Linked DNA regions of Homo sapiens: region 2 is linked to region 1. Evidence: fine-mapped expression QTL. A gene starts in region 1. The other region holds a variant in brackets. All regions are shown on one strand. Distances are between the middles of the regions. Region 1 holds the start of ASB14 (ankyrin repeat and SOCS box containing 14). Region 2 holds the start of LOC105377102 (a long non-coding RNA gene).

What was found. PIP is the estimated chance that this variant, and not a neighbour inherited with it, causes the effect.
Region 2: its variant is fine-mapped to the expression of ASB14 in unexposed skin (GTEx, PIP above 0.99). The same link has a PIP of 0.9 or more in sigmoid colon, subcutaneous fat, sun-exposed skin and tibial nerve.

What each region holds. Positions count from the first base shown.
Region 1 is chr3:57,290,214-57,294,567 of GRCh38, forward strand. ASB14 (ankyrin repeat and SOCS box containing 14) reads right to left here and starts at 2,472. Exons shown (of 11, transcript NM_001142733.3): 1 at 2,420-2,472; 2 at 1,699-1,891. The coding sequence starts at 1,820. DNAH12 (dynein axonemal heavy chain 12) reads right to left here. Exons shown (of 74, transcript NM_001366028.2): 74 at 3,487-3,758. The coding sequence ends at 3,568. LOC124909384 (a long non-coding RNA gene) reads left to right here and starts at 2,578. Exons shown (of 2, transcript XR_007095923.1): 1 at 2,578-3,179.
Region 2 is chr3:57,267,383-57,271,789 of GRCh38, forward strand. APPL1 (adaptor protein, phosphotyrosine interacting with PH domain and leucine zipper 1) reads left to right here. Exons shown (of 22, transcript NM_012096.3): 20 at 360-410; 21 at 1,016-1,105; 22 at 2,159-4,407. The coding sequence ends at 2,305. It overlaps ASB14 (ankyrin repeat and SOCS box containing 14), which reads right to left. Exons shown (of 11, transcript NM_001142733.3): 11 at 960-2,236. LOC105377102 (a long non-coding RNA gene) reads left to right here and starts at 2,184. Exons shown (of 3, transcript NR_135535.1): 1 at 2,184-2,369. The variant A/G (reference allele first, on the strand shown) is at 2,274.

The DNA.
Region 1 (4,354 bases):
TGTCAGCAGGGCTCTGTTCCTTCTGGAGGCTCTTGGGGAGACTCTATCTCTGCCTTTTCTAGCTTCTAGAAGCCACCCACATTTCTTGGCTGGTGGACTCTCTGCCTCCATCTTCAAAGCCAGCATTGTTGGGCTTAGTCCTTTTAACACTGCCATCTCCCAAGTTGTCTCTCCTGGCTCCCCCTCTTTCACACTTAAAGATCCTGTGTTACACTGGGACCACCTGGGTAATCCAGAGTACACCCCCTATCTAAAAGTCAGCTGATTAGCAGCCATAATTCCATCTGTAGCCTTACTTCTCCTTTGCCATGTAAGGTTCCAGAAATTAGGACATCTTTGGATGGGACCATTACTCCACATGTCACAAGTATGTTCTAGTTTTCTAATTCCTTCAAGTACCTGACTAAATCAGCAAGCCTGCCTAAGTATCATACACTTCCTGCAAATCTAATCAAGTAAATGCATAACCACAGTCAATTTCAGTTTCTCTGAAACATTTCAATACTCTCCTTAGCCCAACTCTCTTATACCTTTCAACCTAAAATTGTAAGTTCAAAGTCAGTTACTCAATTATGCAATTTAAGGTTTTAATCATAAGGTTAATATAACAGATAATCTAATAAGGCTAATTTCTTTACAAAACTTTAAATATTTAAAGATTATTTTAAAAACTAATCCTAAATTGAACACAAAAGTATAGGAATAGTGTGTGGCTAAGAGCACAGACTTTAGAATCAGACTGCCTTGCTCTTCACTTACTAGTTCTGTGACCTTGGGTAAGCCACTTAACTTTTCTGTGCCTCACTTTCCTCCTCTCTAAGTAGGGATAATAATAGGACCTACCTCATAGAGAGGTAATGAGAATTAGAATTTAAAAGTTAGTATTTATGAAGTGCTTAAAATAACATGACACATAGTGATCACTCCATGGTTTGTTACATTTTAAAAATACTATATAGGTTTGATGTACTTCATTGTCTCTATTTAGTTATGAAATCTCTTGGGGTTAAAAGACATTTTTCTAGTTTTACATCCAGCAGGCAAATAGAGATTACCATCCCAAGTAAACTGGGTTATCACCCCTGAAAAAATGATGGTTACTGCCTCAGGAGACCAAGGTTGCTGATTGGCCAGCGAGCGTGTGAGCAGGTGTGCCATATCCAGGACGATTCTTCTTACACCCCACACAGGGTCCCACTGGTCCTTTTTCAGTGTTGTCCAACAAAACTCTGAATCTACACTTTCAGAAGCCTTGTTCAAGTTTATGTAATTCCTCCTTTTGATTTGAGTAGATCAAAGACTGGACCCCATCCCCACCTACCCTACTAAGGTTGAAGATAACTAACTTTCTATGTGTCCCGGTTGGATTTATGCATTTCTTCAATTCCCAAAGACAAGATGTATTAGTTTTTCTCTAGCCCTTCATATCCTCCTTTCTTTCTTCTGATTTCCAGTCTGTATCACCTCACCCAGATTTGCTGCTAACCTCCTTCAGATATTTTTATTGCCTAATTAAATTCTGAATTATTTCCAGATTATTCCTGTCTAGTTAGGCATAATATCTTACAGATATTTAATTGACAGCTCCTTGGATTCTGACCCTCCTGTTTTTGTCACAACACTAGAGTTAAGCTAATGACAAGTGTCAGCTGTTGAATACAACACTTAATACTATATTGCCGATGAGAAAACCATTACCTCTCATCCTTAGGTGCATGTTGTGCTGTTCCTGGCTTATAAATATCCTGCAAACTCTGTTGAATGATGAGCTGGGTGTCAAAGTCTTCATCTATGTCTTCATCGCTGGTGTAATTATCCATGTGAAACGTGGACAGGTTTACTTTAAAGTCAGAGTGAATTAAAAGTATTTTTCCAGTTGTGAAGAGATCAACTGCTTAAAATTACAAATGAAATTCAGAAATCTAGAAAATTGGTAGGATTAACAATGAAAAATATACAAAATTTAGGAAACAAAATATTCACTAAAAAATTTCTATAAACTTAAAAAAGTTTTGTGGACTGCCACAGATTCAACAAAAATTAGAAGTTTCCATGAGTAGCCATTGACTTAAAGCTTATTCAGGAAAAACCACCTTTCAAATAAGACTTCGGTTAGTGCCACTCTAACACTGACAACACTCTGATCTGTTCAACTTGGCTGTGAGTCTTTCACAGTGATTGTAGCACTCATCCAAAATAATATCTTTCCTACACACAGTGTGATGCTGAAAATAATATTTTACTTAATATACATTAAAAATAAACATGTTATAGGAACAAATGTATTCTCATAATTACAACATGGATACAGCAGTAGTAAAAACAAATGTATCTTACTAGGCAATATCTAAATGGTTTTAAAAGAAAAATGTCAGTTTTAGCATAGAATACATTTGGTCACATTTCAAAGACTTTTTACCTTTTGTTTTATCCTCTAGGACAGCAGTGAAGTTTTCACTGTTAAGGACTAACACATGTAAGCCTCAGAATTTTCATTTATATTTAGGCTCTCCTCTCCCCTGTAGTGACCATTCCATTAATAGCTTTACTATAAATACTTCATCATAAGACAGTTTGGCACATTCTCCTTGTTTTTTACATGTGGTTTAGCTCTTTTTGGAAACATGATCTCTTTTCTTCAGTGCTACATTCATCAAATTTAAAGGATTAAATATTTTATTCCTGGAATAAAATGCTTTTGCAGGGGGTTGGCCATGCAAAGAGAATTCATGCACATAGCCACTGCAAACCACAATCAATTTTTCACTTAAGAGAACCCAAACATTTTGCTCTGACCCAATTATCCAAAGTGACTGTCCCAATGTACTAGATTCACTAGGTAGCTGTGACTACATTTTCCTTGGGTTACAGAACTGTGGCCTTCAGTGTCCTTGGAATCCTAAGGGAAGAATTCACTCTACACAAGATAAAATTTTGATCAAAATTCTGTTTTGTTGAAATATTTTTAAATTGTTAATATACACTAAAAAAAGCAAAGGGACCACTTGACATTTCAAATTAAATATGAAGCAAATGCCGAGAAGCACACTGTCACTGCAGGTGTAGAAGTTCGGACTGCCCTCAAGCCATCCTACTGCCTTTGCAGGCCAACTTCGCAGCTTTGAGTTTCCTTTCCTAGTCACAAGGATGCAGTGAGAAATGGAACCGATGTCTTAGAGGTAAGAAATAAAGAGGTATAGTTGGGTAACTTTTAATATTTTCCATATTTATAATTTCTTAATTTATGTATTTGAAATATTTATGTATAATTACTTTAGGTAGGAGAGTGGAAAGTAAACTATACTGAAGCTGAAGGAATGACTTAACATTTGTGAAGGAGATAATTCCTGATATTTGTTAAATGTTACCGTTTAACCCCCAAATCTATTTTTCACATACAATCAAACTTCAAAAAGTTCTCCTCAGAAAGGAGAACAATGCAATGAGTGTTTGCAAAGATCATTTAAAAGAATAACACCAAAACACTTGGTTTTATAATGTATATATTTTAAGTAGGACAGGTTTTTTTTTTTTTAAACTTTTGGATGTTTTATAAATTTGTCCAATTTAGTCATCCAACTGACAAAGCAAAGCAACCCCGCGCTTGATCCAGTGCCGAGTAGGTTGGTCTGTTTTTAACAACATTGCAATGACAAAGTTAGTAGAATGTCCCGTAGTGGAAAGAGTTCCTTTACGTTCACTTGTCTTGTAGAGGGGACAGACATAGGCATCCGACTTTATAATCCGAGATTTTTGAGCTTGAAAAAAAAAAAGAAATATATTCACTTGATAAAGGGAAAAACAGCCATTGGTACGAAAAGAACTATTTATCTTGTAATAAAATGGCCAGAACTAAATCTAAGATCATAATTGTGATATATGAAGGTTTTACAGCATATATATTTTTTTACAGTACATATAGTATTACGGTTGTGAAACAAGGCAAGTATTTCTTTTCTTTTCTTTTTTTTTTTTTTTTTGGAGACTGAGTCTCACTCTGTCACCTAGGCTGGAGTACAGTGGCACAATCTCGGCTCACTGCAACCTCTGCCTCCCAGGTTCAAGCGATTCTCTTGTCTCAGCCTCCTGAGTAGGTGGGACTACAGGTGCCTGCCACCATGCCTTGCTAATTTTTGTATTTTTAGTAGAGACGGGGTTTCACTATGTTGGCCAGGCTGGTCTTGAACCCCTGACCTCGTGATCTGCCCGCCTCAGCCTCCCAAAGTGCTGGGATTACAGGCGTGAGCCACTGCGCCCAGCCCAAGGCAAGTATTTCGTATGGTGCATGATTCTAGGTGTGGAAGACAGGAATAGACTTTAAAGTTCTGACCGCTTAGCAGGCATGAGAAAACTC
Region 2 (4,407 bases), 23 kb before region 1:
TGTTGGGAACCAAACATTATGTTGGGAACCAAAACCAGCCATTTTCAGATGTCTTCAGCTGAGAATAGCATTAGCAGCTGCATGCTTCTTCCTCGTAGGCCTTACTGTGACAGTAATGAATTTGACATAACAAGAAGTGGGGTATATATGAAGGTGAGAGTCAGCAGTGGAATCCTGTAGACTTCAAGGAAAACATACAAAGCCTTGGTTTGGGGGCTTGAGCATTCTTAAATATGCTTTTGCTTGAAGCAATGTATTAGGATTAGTTATAAAACTAGTTCCATCAGTTATTTGGATACTTGACATTTTTGCTTTGTTGTGAGAACTGCCTGAATTTTTCATACTTTTTCTCTTTTTAGATATGTGATTCTGTTGGACTGGCAAAACAGATAGCTTTGCATGCTGAACTGGTAAGAATCCAAGATGTGGCTGGGCACAGTGGTTCACACCTGTAATCGCAGCACATTGGGAGGCCGAGGCGGGCAGATGACTTGAGGTCAGGAGTTCGAGACTAACCTGGCCAACATGGTGAAACCCCATTTCTACTAAAAATACAAAAATTAGTTGGGTGTGGTGTCGTGCACCTGTAATCCCAGCTACTGAGGAGGTCTGAGGCACGAGAATGACTTGAATCCGGGAGGCGGAGGTTGCAATGAGCCGAGATCACACCACTGCACTCCAGCCTGGGCAACAGAGCGAGACTGTATCTCAAAAAAAAAAAAGGAATCCAAGATGCTTGATTTTCCAAGAATGTTAACTAAAATAGTATATTAGCTCTTTCATATTAGCAAGTAAATAAAATGATTTTGCTAAGCAAGGTTAACAGTGATACTATTACCAACATAGCATTTAGAATTTGGATAATTGTTTACCATTGAATATAAACTGTTGATGTGCTTTCTTATGTATAAATGCAAAAAAATATTGAAAGGTTACCATGTGATATTAACTGAAATGTCTAAAATTTAAAGTTATTTCATATTTAATTCATTAGTTTTATTCATCTGTTCTTTAGGATCGTAGGGCATCAGAAAAACAAAAAGAAATAGAGAGAGTAAAAGAGAAGCAACAGAAAGAACTCAATAAACAAAAACAGATTGAAAAGGTATACAGTCCTAATGTCTGGATCTTTATGTGTTGTTTGTGAAGACTTAATTCAGCACTATGACTTTCAGATTTGAATTTCCAAATGAAGGGCTGTTTCTGCTTGTTCAGCCACTTCATAAACAGATGATTCATACCATAGCAGAAAAGGGTCACATCTGTTTTTTGATATGATGTTTACATTATAGTTACGTTGACATGTAATATGACTGTTTCAAAAATATACCAGAACTTTAATATTTCAGAGGAGGTTGTCTCTGTCAAAGCAGTTGAGAGGCTGTGTAGACTTAACTGCCATTGCTGAAAGCCATTTTGCCTTCTATGGGGGGGAAATAAATAAATATATATGTTATATGAAATATATAATGAAATGTATATTTTTAATATTGCCAGGAGTGTCAAATCATTGTCCATCCAACAGAATAATTTTAAAAGACAAATTTCAGAGCAAAACTTGAAGAATGCATTAAATGATCCATGAAATTGTAAGAGCGTGTTATGGGTTGTAGATTGACAGTAGGAATAGAAAAGAGGAGACAGCTGGGATGCTTAGAACAGATCAATAAGCATTGGCTGTGGGCTGGCTCTCTGGACAAAGAAGAGGGAAGTGGCAAAGATGACATTGAAGTGAGGCTTTCTTGATAGGCGAGGCTGAGGGAAGGTGACACCTGATTTAGCAAAGATGAATTGGACAGGGATGGAGAAAAGGGCTGGAGAGGGGAAGGGAAAGGAGTGTGGGGGTGATCCCTTTCGAGGGTTTTACTATAATATATAGTGAGAGATGATTGATGATGGGCTTTATTTGGTTGTTGGTCATAAAAAAAGAAAGATAAAATATTAGATTTTAGTTTGAATGCTGGCTTTTATAGGATGGTGCCAAAATTCATTTTGGTGTTGTATTGTTTGGGTGTAGCTTTTCTTTTTATCAAGTTGTCAGAAGTATGCATACATATTTATGACAGAAGAAGTGGCTCTCAAGAATGTATCTTAACTGCATAATTTGCCATTTGACTGCAGACAAGTAACTTAGTTTCTTTTTTGTCTTTTCCACTAGGACTTGGAAGAACAAAGTCGGTTGATAGCTGCTTCCAGTAGACCAAACCAAGCCAGTAGTGAGGGGCAGTTTGTTGTCCTTAGCAGTAGCCAGTCAGAAGAGAGTGATTTGGGAG[A/G]AGGAGGAAAGAAGAGAGAATCAGAAGCATAAGCTTATACTTTTGGTAGATATTCCCCCTTGGAATTTGACAGTTTCTATGGTGAAATGGCAGAAGGTAACAACTATGTTGAAATATCAAGGAGGAGATTAAGCTTTATATTTGCTTATTTGTTGTAGCTACATTTTAAAAAAAAGATTGAACTTGATGACTTAGGTTTGCATTGATCTTTTTTCCCCCTTAAACATAATGTACTATGTATTAACATCTAAAGGAAACCTGCTCATCTCCCTGAAGCAGACTGCTGAGGAATTACATTTGCTCAAGAATTTTTTCCGTCAAATTGTGAACTTTTAATTCTTGCATTGTAATTGGCTGTGTCCATAAGAAATCATTTATTCTTCAGGCTTAGACATTCATGGATATGCTTTTCTTTCATTAGGAACATTTTGCTGGTGATGAGGAAGCATTTAGCTGAATAAGTTTAAAGCCCTTTATACAGAGAATTCTACAAGTTTGCAAATATTTTAACAATATTAAATGTGCAATAGAACTTTTATAAAATAATTAGAACAGAGATTTTACAGTTAAGGTTTCAAATTGTGGCAGGTGGTACTGTTGATCTCAGGGTACTTTCTGGGATTGCTCACATTTCTCTAATGTACTGCACTTGATGCCAGTAGGAAAGAAGCTTAAGTGTCTTCAGTTCAAGATTGATAGAGCCCTTGGCATTTTATTATCACATTCTTAGTTCTCAGGTTGGGACTTCAATTACTGCTGCAGAGCAGTAGTGGTTAAAAATAAGATATTGGAATTTATTAAAAGATTTTTGTTCAATACATTTTAGATTAGGATTGACAAGTAAAGATACTGCTATGGAATGATACATTGTATTTTCTGCATTGTGTGAAATAGTTTTTATTGAAAGTCAAGTGACATTTCAAAAGAAGTTCTATAACAATTATGTTTCATGCTTAAAGTAAAAATTCCCAGAGTTTAGTTTAGAAAATGTAATCTTTTAAATTTCAGACTGATATATTCCCAGTATTTTCATAATGCCATGTTTTGATAAAGTACTGAATCACCACTTTATATCCACAAAGGCAAATAACTAATGTATGATAATAGAATAATTTGCACTAATTATTGTAAATATGTCTACTCTTCAAATGAGTAAAAGGTCCAATTTTGTGAAAGATTGAAAATGAATTGAATGCCTAGTAGAGTATAGGAGAAGTTGACCAAGGAAGGATTTAACCTGGTGCCAAGGTTAAAATAACATTTCTCTACTGCCTATTGTTTATGTTAAACCTTAATTTTTTTTCTGTAATCACTTTTAACACTGCTAATAGAAATTATGTTTTCATGTGTTTCACATGAAAAAGTATATATATACAAAGTTAATATAGTGGGTAAAATACTTTACATAGTCACACATTTACAAATTTTTCAAGAGGTTAGCCACTAAGACTTTAATAATTTTACAAGGGAAAAAGCCTTTTTTTTTCTTTGATATACAGTTTTTTCTTCTTAGTTCTGCATTAGAAATGGCATCTGTTTTAGGTCTCAAAATATAACTCAGCTGTTTCACACTGTATATGTACATTGTTTTCTGTAGGAATAGGATAATGATATATAGGATCATGATATTCCTTCTATCCATGTGCCAAATGGGTGTAATGTTTATTTACTGATGCTTTATGTTACCAAAACATACAGTAAAAAAGTAGAAATTTATGAAATACTTTTGATAAAAAGTTTATTTTGTGCTTACCAAAAGGAATGCTTTCACAATAGTGTATCAGTTCTTTTGTTTTGTTAAAGTTGGAATTTATTCTGTTGCCAGCATTTAAGTAGTCATGGCAAGTCCTGTTTTTAAGACCTTTTGGAGACTGGAGCTTTCTGTTCCATTAAGTCTTTTGTTTATACTACAAATTGTCACCTCACTTAGTTCAGATGAAATCTGTTACTCTACAAGGAAGGTGTTCATCATTAGGAGGCAGCTTTACTAAGCTGGTGCTTTGCATGGTAGCAAGTGCTGCCCTTTATCAGCACCCTGGGTCATAGTGTAGGCTAGAGTTAAGGCACTGGCAGACTTAGGGATGCTGGACAGACCTGTAGTTCGTTTTAAGTCATGTTCACAGGAATTTCTACA